2 separate regions of the Homo sapiens genome follow, and region 1 is linked to region 2. A link means that fine-mapping ties the variant in region 2 to the expression of a gene that starts in the linked region. Tissue or cell type: sun-exposed skin. Region 2 holds a variant in brackets; the other region holds the start of a gene. All regions are shown on one strand. Distances are between the middles of the regions.

Region 1 (8,186 bases), 110 kb before region 2:
AGACATTCCTCTATGAGAGTGACCCTCTTAGTGAGAGAGAAATCTATGTACCATCAGAGGAAATAAATCTTAGTATTCGGTGTGATAGAGACTAATTCATTTCTTTTGATGAAGTCCCACTCTTTGAGTGACTTTGAAGGGGGAGACAAAATGTCAAGAAGGAGTCCTGCAGGAACAAGTGCTTAAGATGGTGTTTAATACAGCAGGGAGCCAAGATACAGTAGTAGGACACAGTAAAGAATGTGGAGTGTGTAGATACAATAAAGAATTCATTTTATGATCTGCCACCTGTTACTTGAAAGAGGAGTAAGTTAGGGAAATAAATGACTCAGTTCTTCATACATGCAAAGGTAAGTTAGTTATTACAAAAGTTTTTGCTGTTGTTTGTGCTGAAAGAAAAGCATATGCATTTAAACATTTTTTAAAAAATAAATCACTCAATAGGCTTAAGAAAAATACTTTAGTTCATAGTTCATTGATCTGACGTTTTGATTTAAGATCAGGGGATGAATCCAGGATGAAAACCAAAGAAAAAAAAAGAAAAAGAAAGAAAAATATAGAAGTGAATCATTTACCATGAAAAAGGCATTTCCAGCCTCAGCTAACCTCAACTAGTTTTTATTGCATTATTTTTGAAATGCCAAGAAACTGGCTTTGGCCATAATACTTGCTGTCCAACAAAATCACAGCTGTTAATATGCAATTGCTTGCAACAATTAGCTAAACAGCATTATTTGACAAATTCCCTTGAAAGAGACATAGATGCTATTTAAGTGTCTAGCACACTGAATCAAGTAACTATCAGTTAGGCTGGGGCCGCAGCTGGAGGGAGGAGAGAAGTTTACAAATCCTTGTCCACAGAAGGTGTTTCACACCCAGCCTTAAGTTTTTGAAAAACACACATTTGTCCTGATCCTACAAGTTCATCATCCCTGTTTTCAGGAAGAACTGAACTGTGGAACTGGCCAAAGAGGAGGGGGAAAAAGCCACCAACTCTAGATTCATTTTTAAGGAGATCAGGAGGAGAGGAAGAAAAATAGAAACGCGTATGTGAAATGGTAATGATATACAACATGGAGAAAAAAATAAACATCGTGGAACCTGCTAGCAATTTCCACCAATTTCCACCAAAGCAGTGAACCCCTTAACTGACAGAAATTCAGTACAATATACACATTAATTAACAACTCCACCATTACTAGGGCTGCTGTTGAAAGCCAAAAAATTAACTACAATATTGAAAAACAGAATGCTTACAATATCTGAGAAAAATAGAGTGAAAAGGCAATGTTAGCTAAGCTCTTAGCTACATCCACTCTTAATGGCCCCCAGTATTTAAACTATCATGGATTAAAGCCATGAAAATAAAAATTTCAATTTGAAATTTTATTAGCCTGTTGCTAAAATGGTCAATAAAAACATCAACACGATAGGCTTTGTTGACATAGTTGGAAAACTGCTCTCTCATTTTTAAAACTTTATTTCCACTTCCCCAGCTTTGAAGATTTCTATGTTAGGAAAAGCCAAACTAAATATACTGGCTATGGTGTTGTAACAATGCTGGTTTCTGGAATGGTGCCATGTCCTCCCCCTCCCTCTCCTCCAACTCCTTTAAAAATATGACTATTTTTGAAATGCAGCCCGAGGAGGGAGCAATCAAGGGTTCAGAACAATAAGCGCCCTTCACACATTCAAGTTCCCAGACACCAGGTGAACGAGCGAGCTCCTTGTCGGGGGCGGGGCCGGCTGTCCTCACCGAATTCGCAGCGCCATCTTCCTCCCGGGACCGGGCCGGCTTCCCTTCTGCCAGCGAGGGAGACTCGCAGGCAAAGGCGGGTGGGGGTGGCGTTCGCTTCCCACGGTGGAAAGAACCGGAGGCAAACACTGTCTGGCTTAGCCCGCAGCCTGGAACACAATGTCAGGAGACCTGGGGCTGGAGAGCTGGAAAAGTCCCGGGCAGCCTCAGGATAACCCGGAATCCCGAAGTGCTGTCTTGGGGAATTATTCCCAAGTGCACAAGGGACAGGCTCGATTTCTTGGAAATCCTGCGATCTGGGGACGCATCCACAGAGGAGCTGAACTGTGCCCTGTAGAGACCAGTTCTCGCCTCCGACCGGTCTGTGTGCGCACGCTCGGGGCGGTGATGGTCCCTTTTGAGAAGAGGGTTGTTTTCGAGTCGGGCCACAGTCACTGGCCATGGACTCGCGGGGAAGGCCATGTCCTTTCTCCCCTCAGCCCCTTCCCCGTTCCCGGTTTACATCTCAAGGGGAAAGCGCACGCGGGGTCTCCCAGCACCGTCACCACCGCTGTGGCTGTCAGCCAGGCGCTCGCAGCGGCGCCCTTTCGGCCCTGGGGCAGTTCCTGAGACTTCCTGCCGCTGGCTTGGGGATGCGGGGGTGCAGCCCGGGCCCGGGCCACCGGCGGCGGACGCGCGTGGCGGGGCGGGGCAGAGGTTGAGAACCGCTGACTGCGAAGTCCGGGTGCGGGGAAGGGAAGGGAGCGAGGTGCGGGGGAGGCAGAGGGGCCGGCAGCCCCTAGGCGGCTACTCCTTGTCGTCCACGAGGTCGGCGAGCTCCTGGAGCACTCGCAGGCGGCCGCTGGCGTCGATACGGCGCTTCTCGCGGATGAGGTCTTCCAGGCTGTGAAACCTGGCGGTGTGGACCTTGTTCTCTCCCAGGTGCACCTTGAGATAGTACTGCTGCTGCGGGGGCTGCGTGCCTGCCGGCACCTCCCCTCCCGCCTTGAACTCCCGCTTGCCAAAGCGGCACCAGGCGGCGAAGCTCTCCGAGTTCGTCCAGCAGATCTCCTCGCTCTTGAGGCCCAGGTGGCCGCAGGCGTTCTGCACCACCAGCTCGGCCACCAGCGGGCGGTAGCGGTACCAGCTATTCACCACCCGGCCCACGTTGGCCGCGCCCGCCTCATACAGGCTGTCCTGGCGGATCTCGCCTTGGTGCAGGTGGATGATCTGCCCGCCGCCCACGTAGACGGCCCAGTGCGGGGCGGGCGCGGGCGGCTCCGGCGCGGGCTGCAGCCACAGCAGCTCCAGCAGGTCGCCGGGTTCGCAGAGCGCTGGCAGCGCGGTGACCGCGTAGACGCTTAGGTCGGCGCCCTGAGGGCCACCGCTCACTTTGGAAAAGATGCATTCCTGGCCCCGAAAGGCGGAAAACTGAGTCTCGTTGAGGACCAGCTGGTGCAGCAGGTGGTGGTGGTGGCGGCTGGGGCTCTCCGGGCAGGGGGTGCAACCCGGGGGGGCCTTCACGCCAAACTTGTCGGGCTGCCCGCGTTCGTCCAGGTCTTCCTCATCATCCGAGAAGAAGTAGGCAACCCCGACCCGCAGTTCGTCCTTTTCAATCCCCGACGGGTCCCCTGTGGGCAACTCGCTGTAGTTGAGGTGGGTGATGCGGTCCAGTTGGTTGCCCATCAATGAGGTGGCGAGGCGAGGGCCAGGAGCGGGGATCTGCGGAGGCACAGAGAGGCAGAGACACCGTCAGAGTCCGGGCTGCCCCTTTCGGTGTCCCTCCCCAAGACGTGCAGTGCCCCTGGGACCTGCCGGCTAGCTTACGTGCCCTCACCGGAGTCACCCTTTCCAGCCGAGTCCTCCGTGCCTCCCCAGGGGTACGAGGGGCGGAGAAGCCGCCACAGGTCAGGCGAGAGCAGACGCCACCACACAGCCTCCGACCCCTTCCGGGAACTCGGTCCAACTCCCAGAAGAAAACACCCAGGCTGGCTGGAGAGCTTGCGGGGTCCCGGTGGGGAGGAGAGTGCTGGCTGTGGCAGTGTGGGAGACGGACACCCAGGAAGGACCGAGGGGTGGGCTGAAAGGGAGAAGGGAGCCTAAGGCCAGTGAGCTGGGAGCAAGCTCCCATTTCTGTCCCCACCCTCTCCAGCCCACCTCCCAGTTTTGCACTAGGTTGCCTTCCTCCCCTTACAGCGGCTCGCACAATGACAATCAGACACATTCTCAGGCATTCACTTGACACCAGCAACATTTTGGACACTTGGGAGTCCAGACACTGGCAGCCTGGTATACTGGTGTATGTCACATACACCCACAATGACAAACCTTCGCGACGACACACTGGCACACTTAGACCCCACACATTCGTACACAATTTCAGCTCCACGCTTGCACGCTCGCCGTTGCACGTACGCCCAAGCACCCGGGCACACCTGCCCTCACAGGCAGGTGCACTCTGCCCCTTACTTCTCTTGCCTTGTCCCCATCAGGGCCAATGGGACTGCGCCAGGGCGAGGCTGCTCTGTCTAAAATAACCTAACAAAGAGGCAGGGGAAGGATGGAGAAAGCCAGTGCAGTGTATGTGTGTGGGTGTGGGTGGGAGCGTGTGTGTGTAGAGAGGTTCACTTTTAGCCCAAAGACCCCTCTCCCTCCTACCCAGCACAGGATCCAAACAATCGGATGAAGAAAAACCGTTTCCAAGGCAAAGAAAGCCGCTTCTCCCTACCCGTGATTTCCCTGCTCCCGAAACCCCAAACTCCTTTAAAGTCTCCTGGTCCCCATGGGTGCTGAGGAAGCGGCGGTGGCGAGTGGGTCCTGGGCTGCGCGTGGGGCTGCGGCTCCGCTCTACCCCGAGCCGAATCGTGCGGTGCGGCGCCCGTGCGCCTCCAGGTCTGCGCTGGCCGGGGCGCCTGCTCCCACTGGACAGTCCCGGCTCGGCTCTGCTTTCCCACCGCCGCGCCGACGACTCTAAGTAGCCGGAGCAGCCGGTCCCAGGGCCCGCCCCAGGACGCGCTCATTGGTTGGGGCGGGTGCTCGAGCTGTGTCAATCTTCGCCGGCGGGGGAGGGGAGCAGAGGCGGGCCTCCTGTGCGCTTTGCTCTGCTCCGCTCCGCCCCGCCCCGTACCCCGCACACCCGACCGCGCGCCGCCCCGGGGAGCGGAGGTGTGCGCACCCGCGGGGGGCGCGGCGCTTTCTGCCAGGTGCCGATGCCCGCTTGCGCCCGCGCCCCCCAGCTCATCCGAGCTGATTGTGACTGAGAACACAGCCCGCCCGCGTTCCGTGTTCCAGGAAGACAGACTCCAGCGGGGAAGCTGAGTCTGGGTATGGAGAAGAAACCCCAGGGCACCCCAGTATGGCCCAGGCACTGCGAGCGGCCCGGGGCAGGCAGCGACATTGCCCGAGGCGGGCGTCTGGGCCCTGCTGGGATCCCCCAGAGCCTTGGTTCCCGATGGCCCCTAGGCTGGTCCTTGGATCGAAGACCCTTTTCGTTCCCCAGACGTCTTTGAAATTGCTCCTGCGACGTTTGGCTCCTCTTCTTTGACTGGAGTGAGGCTGCTGACCCAGAGCTGATGCCCGATTTAAAAGGAGCTTGGTGTCAAATGCCACCCAAAAGCCTGAGCTTTGGCCGGTGCATTCCCTGGCTGTGCCTATGATATTGGCCTCCAATTTTCTGAATATAGGAGGAGTACCTCACAACTCATGTATGTGAGTTCATACATGCAAGCAGAGAGTAGGATGTAAAAGTGTTTTCCAAGCCTCAGAATTGGGATTGCTAAGCAAGTTTTGTTTGGTTTTGTGGGAAAGGAGGCTCCAGCAGTAGTTAATGATTACATTTCTGGATGGAAAGTTAATGAATGAATGTGTTCTGAATATTGGATGCTGAAAAAATGAACTTCATATATACAACATTCCAGACCAATAGTTTCAAAAGTTCCTAACATTAAGCCTCAAAGAGTTCTTAGACATCTGGTTCTGGCCCCAATGCTACTCATCTTTAAGCCTGGGCTCCAGCAGCTTTTCTATGAAGCCTCTTTTCTTTCCCAATGAGGAATTTGATACTTCCTATTTGAACCCCCCACCTCTTCCCTACAAAGCGAATTCCTTGAGAATAGACTTTGCATTCTGCACAACCTTGTATTCTGGGCCTCTTTCCCAATGCTAGTCATGCAGTGTGTTCCATCAGTAATAGTAAAAATGAAAACAGCCTGTATTGACCACTTATACGTGGTCAGACACTTAAGAGTAAATTAAGTAGACAATTTAATCATTATTCCTCTGTAGGGTACTCACTAATATCCGAATTGTAACAAACAGGGAAACAAAAGCTCCAATACTAGTACCAGCAATCCATCCAAGCCTACGGGATACCAGATCCAGTCTTTCACTAAGTTATAGTGTTTATTGAATAAAATCTTGTTTCATAAAATGAGAAAACTGGTGTTTCAGAGAAGTTAGATGATTGGCTCAAGGTTACATGGAGACTGATCCATATTACAACCCCCTTTTTCTTTGCTAGACTTTTCTGCTTGAATATCTTCAAACCGCCAAGCCTCCAGTTTATGTTTGCTTTCTGAAGGTCTCTGTACACCCCCACAGCCTCCAAATGCAGTGATTTATCAAATTAGATGCTAAAATATTGCTGGAAAAAATGGTTTTAAATGACCATCGGTATACAATTGATGTACCTAAATCTTTTTGGAAATTTGGCTATTGTCCATGTGCATGCAAGTTATCAGAAAACAAGTTGCCATTCGTGGAACTGACCACAGGTTGAGATGGCCTTTTTTATACTTGCCATAAGTAATAAACAACTCATTTTGGCCCTGAAGTCAAGAGAATTGAACAAGTAGCTTTAGAGATAAGGAGTGAGTTATTGGTCTTGTTATAAACTGGACTTCAGGGCTGTCTGGGATGAGGGTATCTGAAGAGTTCATTGTTGATGTCTGAGAAGAACTCTTTGAAAGCAACTCAGCGTTTGAATAACTTAAAAAATATCCTCCCTCCATCCCCAAGATCAAGCCTTGTGCACAGACATTTACAACTCATTTGTTGTGTTCTGCCCTACGTGTTCTATTTCATTCTGCTCCAGACTACAGAGTAAGCAGGTCGTTCCTCTTTGTTTAGTATTCCAATACTATAAAGCATAATTAAGATAAAATGTTGTCAGTTATTGGAGATATAGTGCCTAAAGTTTAAAATTTTTGGCCTCTCCGTTTCCTCTCATTCCCCCTGCTAGGCTAAACGGCTAACTGCTTTTGTAATCACATGGGAGAAAAAATACCCTGGAGCCCCCTTGAAACATAAGGCAGGGAACACATTGACTGTGAGGCTTGAAATAAAGGGAGCTAAAAGTAAACTAAGGAAAATACATCTACACTTTGTCTTCTTTTGGCACTTACCAGATAATAAAGTAAGACAATCAAATGAAGGATGCTGATTGTAGAAAATGTTTTATGTTCATCACAAAATATTGTTTTCAAATTGTTTTGACTTTTATTTTTTACTCCATCCTGCCTGCTTTTACAATGAGAAAATACAGTGCTGTCCAAAGTAGAATATAGTTGTCCAAAACACAAACTCTGAAAGCCAACTAATTTAAACTCTTTTTCAACATTTATTGCTGGGTAACCTCGAGTCCGTTATTTAAACTTTGTGGGCATCAGGAAACTTCCTTATCTGTAAAAAAGAGATAATAATAGTGGTTACCTCACTGAATTGTTGTGAGTTCATACATGTAAGCATAGTGTCTGACGCACAGTGAGTTTTCAATCAAGGCTATCTTATTATTATTCTTGGTGGAAGAGAGAGGTCTCATACCCTACTTGTTTAGGACAGCTGTGCAGTTCTCTTTCTCCTTTGCCCCAGGCTAAAGGTAGCAATAGATAGTGTCCAAGGCTTTCCCTGATTGGGGTGTAGGACTGCTTCTGTGTTAAGGTGGTGAGATCCCTGCCTATCCTTCAAATACTCTGAGACCTAAAGCTCTCTATAGATTTCAGCATGTGAGCCCCTGGGCTGATCATGTGGTAGCAGGGAGTGGGGTGGGGGTTCCCTGAAGGATTTTTAATTGTTTTAAATGAACATTTCCGGTGTGAGGAATTTGTGTGGGGAAAAAAGTTACAGGGGAGTGATTAGGAGTCAATCAAATGTATGTGATCTTTTCTGCTGGTGCCATCTGATGTATCCTCTCTCTCTCTTTTTTTTTTTTTGTTTTTGGTTGCTTCTTTGGCACTATTTGAAAAGCTTTACTCCAAATTTTACTGAACAGGTCCTTGGCTCAAACTGTCATCCTTTAAAATTGGCCTTGGAGCTTGGAGTAAGGGTTCAGGAAAATTATATGCCCCACTTTATCCTTTAATGAAATGAACTGTTCCATCTCCTGTCCTTCACTGCCTTAGGCAGTTAACATACTCACCCTGGTCTGAGCTAAAGAATACTCTGTGTCCATCTG
Region 2 (8,186 bases):
GCATACAGAATACTTTCATATAAGTCATTAAAATTTTAGGAAGTAGCATTTACTTCATAAGGCTGCAGAGGGGAGCTAAATGGACTAACTCAGGGAAATTTATTGACACATTCCCCAGCACACAGCAAGTGCTAAATTTTATCTTAAATTTTTAAATTAAAAATGTATTGTGGGCCAGGTGTGGTGGCTCACGCCTATAATCCCAACACTTCGGGAGGTTGAGGCAGGCAGATCACTTGAGCTCAGAAGTTCGAGAACAGCCTGGCCAACATGGTGAAACCCTGTCTCTACTAAAAATACAAAAATTACCTGGGCGTGGTGGTGGGGCATCTGTAATCCCAACTACTCGGGGGCTAAGGCACCAGAATCTCGTGAACCTGGGAGGCAGAATTTGCAGTGAGCAGAGATCGTGCCACTGCATTCCAGCCTGGGTGACGGAGCAGGACTCAGTCTCAAAAAGAAAAAAAAAAACATATGCACACATACACACACATTGTGTATTAGTGTTCACAATAAGCCTGTGTGGATAAAATATTTTTATTCTAGTTTTGCAGAAGAGGAAATTGATGCATAAAGAGATAAGGTGATTCATTTGATGGTATCCATATTGTATAGTAGGTGTCTGAGCAAGGACTCTGTCTCCCATGACAAATTCTGGGTATCTCCACTGGACCGGGCTCACATATGGAGTGGGAACTGTGAATCTTATAGAACCAGGAAGTCTCATAATCCTTTAGTGGCGGTGACAGGAGCACTTAACTCTAGAATATCTGAGATTTGTCCTTTCCTCTATCTTCCCCTCTAATATCTTCTTTCACACCTGCCTTTCTCCACTTTCTTGTATTCCTTCTCGGACTTTCTTTATCTTCTCTTCCCTTTTTTCTCTTTCTCTCAAGAATCTGGTAACTTCACAGAGCTGGAGCCTCTTTTCTTCTTCGAAATATATCTATAATTCTTGAGCTCCACTTTATTTTTCCCAAGGGAAGCCTTTCCTTATCCTGATTAAGATGAGTGTTCTACTCTGGTCCCTGTGCTGCTTGGCTGGAGCCAAACACCCTTCTGAGTTCATGCAGACTTCATCTCGCAAGACACTGGATCCAGATCCCCATCTACCACTGGACCTGAGGGACAGAGGAAACTATTCCTTTCCCCTAGCTTCCCTTCTAATATCTTTATTCTTTCCTGCATTTCTCTACGTTCTTGTATTCTTCGTCTGGCTTTATTTCATACTCTATTGTTTGCTCTTTCTCCCAAGAATATGGTAACTTCACAGAGCTGGAGCCTCTTTTCTTTACAGCTTTGAGCCCATTCTCTCTTGGCACTAAGGTTCTTGTGTCTGCCAGGCTCTACCTGACATCACCCTTGAACATCCCCTGAATGTGTGCTTAAAGTTTGCATGTACTATGCATACTCTTCTTTTGTCCTGTCAATGGAGGGCTGCTCTTGCCTCTGGTTTCTGCGTCCTTCCACCCAAGCCTTGGCTGCTGAGGCCCATACCCTTGTAAAGTATAATATGTTCTCCTTCTCCTTCAGGGGTTCTGTATCCTTATCAAGGAAGCTTGGTGAGGAACTGAGAATACCCATTTTCTTTTATTGATTAGTCTTCAACTCTGCGAAATTTTAACTGATTCAATAAGTTTAATTATTTTAAGATTGAGGATTTTTTTTTCTGTGAAAATACTATAAAATCATGCTATTGATCTCAACCTTTAGATTTAAGGGTTAACGATTGTTTTCTATAGAACTCTCAATTTCATGCTAAATTTTTCTTTTTAAAGGACATGTTTTTCCACATGGTAAGATTGGATAATAATCATTTGAACTAGACCAGAATTTAATTCTGATGTCATTCATATAGAAGATTATTTTTGCTTATGAATAATTTAAACCAATTTTTGGTTTGCTGTGTTCAGTAAAGAAATCCAGTTGAGTATATATTTCTCTTCTCTTTTCTATCTTTGTTAGTCACCATGTGTTTTTAAATTTAAATTAGTGTATGTATTATTAGATGTGTGACATAGAAAATGCCTAACCTATATGGAAATTCAAGGTTCCAAAAGCTATGTAATTTGAGTTAGATAATATAAGACCTTGACTTGTTTCTTTATTGCTGAGTTCTGGTATATTTTTATATAAGCCATTGTTGCATAGCCTAAAAGAGAATTGCTTCCTTTATCAACCTCATTTTACTCGACAGTAACAAACTAAATTTTAACTCAATGATGGCCAATGGCTATTTCAGGTCTAACATCTTTTTCATGTTAGTCCCAAATCACCAACCTTACATAAAACATGTAAGTAAAACTCAATTATTTAGTATAAAAATCTCAGATATCTTGTATTTTTTTACGTTACTAAAAAGGACCACAAGATAAATATATTTCCCTCACTAGGTGAATACTGGCTTCTCTAGTCCAAACAAAAGCATAGTTTTCTTTCTTTATTTCTTCCTTTCTTCCATTTTCCTCCCTTCCTTCCTTGCTCCCACCCTCCCTCCTTCTCCTCTTCCTTCCTCTTTCCTTCCTTTCCCTTTTCTTCTTTCTTTTACCTTACTTTGTTTGATAGCGTCTTGTGTGATTAAAATGTCTATATTGGTACAACCTCACAAGATTTTAGATGGATTAATTTCTTTTAAAACTAAGTTGCACTTTTAGGGGAGATGCTTAATCATTCCAATATATAAGGATATTTGCACTTTCAGATACAGACTCCCAAAACTTGGAAACATTATTCAAATGCGTGCACATTTAAAAATCTTCTCAGACATTGTTACTTTATTTCTACCAGATGGCTCTGTGATTCATTAAAGCCTGTGATTCCATTAAATGGGGGGCAGCTCAATGGGAAACTCTGACTGTCTCTGATTGTTCCACCACCTTACCTTGAATCTGCCTACCTACATTTCATTAAAGCAATAAACCATGCCCTTGCATATTCCTGTGGTTTAATGTTTAGGAGACTTAGATGGCTGATCACTGAGTAAGAACACACAATCTTGTGAGCCATCAGGGTTTCTCAGAACTCTTTCAATTCTCAAAAGTCCTTAATTTGAAGAGGCAGTTCGCTAATGCCTTAAACAAGTTCCCATGACCTCTCCATCTGCTTTCATTAAAATAGGGTAAATTGCTCGCTCTTCTTTCACTTTCTCCAAAAGTGACATGGACGTGATTACTGTCTCCATCGCCCAAACAACAAGTCATCTGATAACCCTCCACTTCTCCCTTCAGAATCCACAGCACGCCACCTCTGGAAGAATGGTGTGGGGGAGTAGAGCATACAAACCTGCTATGTGAGTTGAAGGAGCTATTCACACACCTTTGCATTTCTCTTACTGCAGGTATTTAACCTACGGCAAGTGTATTCAGACTTTCCACATATATCCAAACATTCTTACTGACAGGTGTCAATTATAATTAATATAAATATTTTTGTTAAATATATCTAGCAGTCCATTCTATACTCTTAGAGCCTGCTGTATCCAGTACGTAATGGTA[T/C]TATTGTCAGTTTAATCATCTCTGTCTCTCTCCTATAAAACTCAGATCTCTTTGAGGTCATCAGCTTTGTAATATTTGTTTACTTCCTGCAGATTCTGGTACAGTTTCTGTGGTTGAATGACTAACTCATTGACCACTCTTGTTTGATCACATCCAGGGGAGGAATATACTTAACCAGATTTTTTATGAGGGAGGCCAAGTGTTCAGACCAAGAACTCTAAACTAGTAATTTACTTCATTGAAATTAACCCCACATATTCTGGTACTTTGTTATTTATACTACAACATTTATTTATACAACACATCCCATAAAAAAGAAGGATACATTGGAGGAAATGAAACTGAATTTGAGGCTTAACAAATTGGTATAATCAAATCCCATCAGTGTAGCAAAAATGAGAGAAAATCCTAGACAGTGAAATCTAGGAGATGGAGATGAGGGGAAGAAGTGAATATGGGTTTAGAAAAGGGTTTGCCTTTCTTTCTTTCTTTTTTTTTTTTTTTTTGATGGAGTTTCTCTCTTTTTGCGCAGGCTGGAGTGCAGTGGCACAATCTCAGCTCACTGCAACTTCTGCCTCCCGGGTTCTAGTGATTCTCCTTCCTTAGCCTCCAGAGTAGCTGGGATTACAGGTGCGCACCACCACACCCGACTAATTTTGTATTTTTAGTAGAGACGGGGTTTCACCATGTTGGCCTCGCTGGTCTCGAACTCCTGACCTCATGTGATCTGCCCGCCTCAGCCTCCCAAAGTGCTGGGATTATAGGCATGAACTCCCGTGCCCGGCCTGCCTCTCTTTTACTTACTCTTAGAACTGGAATCTTGTGGAACAGGCTGTGCAGTTTTGAATATTTGCTGCCTACATTTTACATACCTTTTTCAAGACGTCTACTGCAGGAAAAAAAAACCTATCATAAGAGATAAACACTCAGACAATATAATACCGTGTTTGCTTATAGCTTCTCCCCTAAAGTTAACTGTCAGTTAAGACTGTCTGTTTTAGCCATGAGAAACCCACAACTGGATTGTGTGAATCTTGTGCTTTCAGGCACCGAGTGGGGCTTTGCCACCGATGCCTTCATTCATACTCCTTAGGTCAGCTGGTCACTTAGTTGGCATGTTGGATCTGCTTGGATTGCAGTAAAGCTGCAAATATCATTCCTGGACTCAAGAGACTGGTAATTTATAAAAGGAGACAAAATTTTAGTGTAACATACAGTAAAGTGTAATAAGTGACTCAAACTACTAGTCTTGAACAGAGAAATTGTAAACGAATAACACAAGAGCTTACTACTTCTGATTTTCTGCTCATATAGGTATGTCTTGTTTTAAAATATTTCTTTATGCCCCAAATTATGCACAAATACAAACACACAGGCACACTACAGCATGATGATATGTTCCAAACACAGAACAGCTGTGAAGAACATTCTTGAACTCAATGAACTCCACCCTTGCTAAAAGAGAAAAATGAACAGTGTTATCCATGAATATATATTATCCTACATACATACACTATATGTATGTATGTATTTACACATATGGCTAGTATTTCATAATATATACACATACATACATACATACATATGTTAATATTTAGGGTATAAAAATTCTCACATTAGATAAAATATTGCTAAAAAGCCTAGAAACTTCTCTCAAGTGGATAGATACTAGATCCATAAATTAAAATACTTTTTTTTGAAAAGTCAGAGGAAAAATATTCTGATACTTTGAATGGCTACTCAAATAATTACAAGAATAATTAAAGGTAACATTTTCTTGTCCTGACTTTGAATTTGTTTGGGAGGAGTAATAGTATGTATTCAATTCTTCCTAATAATTAGTGTCAAGAAAAAATGTATCTTCTGTTCATTCCTCTTTTGGACAAAAAGCTGACGGTAGCTGAGGACTGGATAAGGAATGTATTAGTCTGTTCTCATGCTGCTAATAAAGACATACCCAATGCTGGTAGTTTATAAAGGAAAGAGGTTTAATTGACTCACAGTTTCACATGGCTGGGGAGACCCTACCATCATGGTGGAAGGCAAAGGAAGAGCCAAGTCATGTCTTACATGGAGGTAGGCTAGAGAGTGTGTATAGGAGAACTCCCCTTTATAATACCATCAGATCTTGTGAGACTTACTCACTATCATGAGAACAGCCTGGGAAAGACCCATCCCCATGTTTCAACTACCCCCCACCAGGGTCCTTCCCCCGACATGTGGGAATTATGGGAGCTACAATTAAGATGAAATCTGGGTGGGGACACAGTCAAACCATATCAAGGGAAGTATGGTGGTTCGAATATTAGTACCAGACAATGTTGTTACTATAACTCGGCAGTCATTAATTTATCCATTCAAAAAATATTTACTGAGCTCAAGGCCAAGCACATAGAACCAATGCTGGGAGTAAAGATAAAAAACACACGCAAGACAAAATCCATATTCCAAAAACAATAGCAGAAATATTTCCTGTCCCACATGCTCTTCCAGAACTTTTTATGAAGTCTATGCCCTCTCCTCTTGAACTTGGTCAGGCTTTTGTAACTGACTTGACTGTACAGCAACCCTGACTTCTGAGGCCAGGTCATAAAAGGTAATGCAACTTCTGGTTTTCTTGGGATACTTGCTTTGAGGGCCTTGAGCTGCCATTTGAGAAGTTTGAGGTTGCCATCTTGTGCGGAAGCCCAAACTAACTCACGCGGAGCAAACACATGGAGAAGAGAGATGTCCAGTCAGCCCTTAGCTGCCTTCCACTGTTCCGGCTCTAGTCACTATCTGCCGACTGCAGAAGACTGCAGATCTATGCAGATATGCCCAAGACTGAACCATCTATGACTACAGAAGAAACTCCAAGCCAGAATTGCCCAACTAGATGATTCTCAAATTTCTGACCCCTAGAAATCATGAGAGATAAATGGTTGTTGTATTTTAAATAACTATTTTTAGATTATTTGTTACACAACAATTGATAACTAGAACAGACCTGAAGTATATTCTAATTTCATGGGAGATATGAGCCTTAATAATTTACATAAATTTCATAATAAATTATATATAGATCACAATGTAAGAGAGAGAGACTTATAAATATCACAAGAGAAAAGTAATTAAAGCACCATATAAACTCAGAGAAAGATGGAATGAAGTACCCCTGAAGCTAACATTGAAAACCCTGTCGGAGAGCTGGTGAATGAACTGGGCCTTCACTTAAGGATGAAATTTGGACATGAAAAATAAGAAAATTTCAGGTAGAAGGAACAAGTTACTCATCAACATATAACTGGCTTTACATATAATATCTTACACGTGACTCAATTATAGTGGCCCATTCAAACCTTATAGGACAAGATTACCGTTCTATGGTGCCTTATGCCATTTTGTCTTATGGCAAAATCATCCTTATGTTTTTACTTCTACTCTGGAATTCATATCCGTTTCATACAATATGTGTTATTTTGAGAGTTGCTGGGATTTATGGCATCCTCTGTCTTCATCAAAATCACTTTGTCAGAGCACCTGCTATGTTCTTGTCCCTCTGGCTGGCTTTGGAGAAAAGGGAGGAACAGGACATTATCTTTGCCTTAAAGGAGCTCATGGCCTAGTCACAGCGGCAGTGCTGAGAACTGGGGGATTAAAAGAACGGCAAGTTAAGAGAAAACTAGTGGCACATAGGAGGGAGTAAGCAACTGTGCAGAGGAGGTGATATTCTGACTGAATCATTAAGGATGGAGCTTTGCCAGACAGAAAGAGAAGAAAGAATTCCCGGCAGGGGGGTGGTGGCATGTACCTGTAATCCCAGCTACTCAGGAGGCTGAGGCAGGAGAATGGTGTGAACCCGGGAAGCGGAGCTTGCAAAGAGCCGAGATCACGCCACTGCACTCCAGCCTGGATGACAGAGCAAGACTCCATCTCAAAAAAAAAAAAAAAAAAAAAATTCCCGGCAGAGAAGACAGGAAGAGAAGCAGCGCCAAATGTAAAACATGGTATGTTTTGGGAAATACAAATAGTTCAGCACAACCCAGGGCATAAGATCTAAATCGGGAACCTGAGTGTTGAGCTAGAAAAGGTGGCAGAAGGCAGCTTACTGAGGGGCCTGCATTCCTCATTTGCTGAGAGGTTTGGCCTCATCCCAAAGGTGACAGAGAACCTTAGGAAAGGTCTCATTGTACTGAGCTTATACAGTCAAATTGTAATTATTTCTTACGTAACTGTTCTCTCTATGTATGGTTTTTGGAGACAGAACATACTTTTTGTTGAAAAACCATCACATTTCTGCCTACTTTAAGATTCTGACATGCATTTTCCCAATGGGTAGTATTCACCCTAATGATTAGACCTAATGTAGCCTGAAGAAAATGTCACCTTACAGGAATCAGAGGCAATGTATTCCAAAGTGTTTTCCACTCACTGCTCTTTCTGGAAATGTGGTTTCTCATGCCATGAAACTTGCATGATGCCATAAAGACACTGATTGTACTAATTTATGGACCCTGGCTCTGTCAGATACATTGATCTCCTAGAGACAGATTAATTACAATTCAAGGACCCCTACCCCCATACAAAACACACACTACTGGTCTTTTCCCACTGTCAGGAAATTCTGGTGGTAAATAATTCAAGAAAAATGCAACCCCAGTGGGAACTGCAAGTGCCTGTATTTCATGACCCATGATATCCCCTATGATGTGT

Evidence for each region. PIP is the estimated chance that this variant, and not a neighbour inherited with it, causes the effect.
Region 1: it holds the start of LRATD1, and the variant in region 2 is fine-mapped to the expression of LRATD1 in sun-exposed skin (GTEx, PIP 0.98).

The regions. Positions count from the first base shown.
Region 1 is chr2:14,629,215-14,637,400 of GRCh38, reverse strand. LRATD1 (LRAT domain containing 1) reads right to left here and starts at 4,684. Exons shown (of 2, transcript NM_145175.4): 1 at 4,464-4,684; 2 at 1-3,457. The coding sequence starts at 3,421. The coding sequence ends at 2,543.
Region 2 is chr2:14,519,676-14,527,861 of GRCh38, reverse strand. No RefSeq gene overlaps it. Among named protein-coding and RNA genes, the nearest start is that of LRATD1, 110 kb to the left of the region's middle. The variant T/C (reference allele first, on the strand shown) is at 3,495.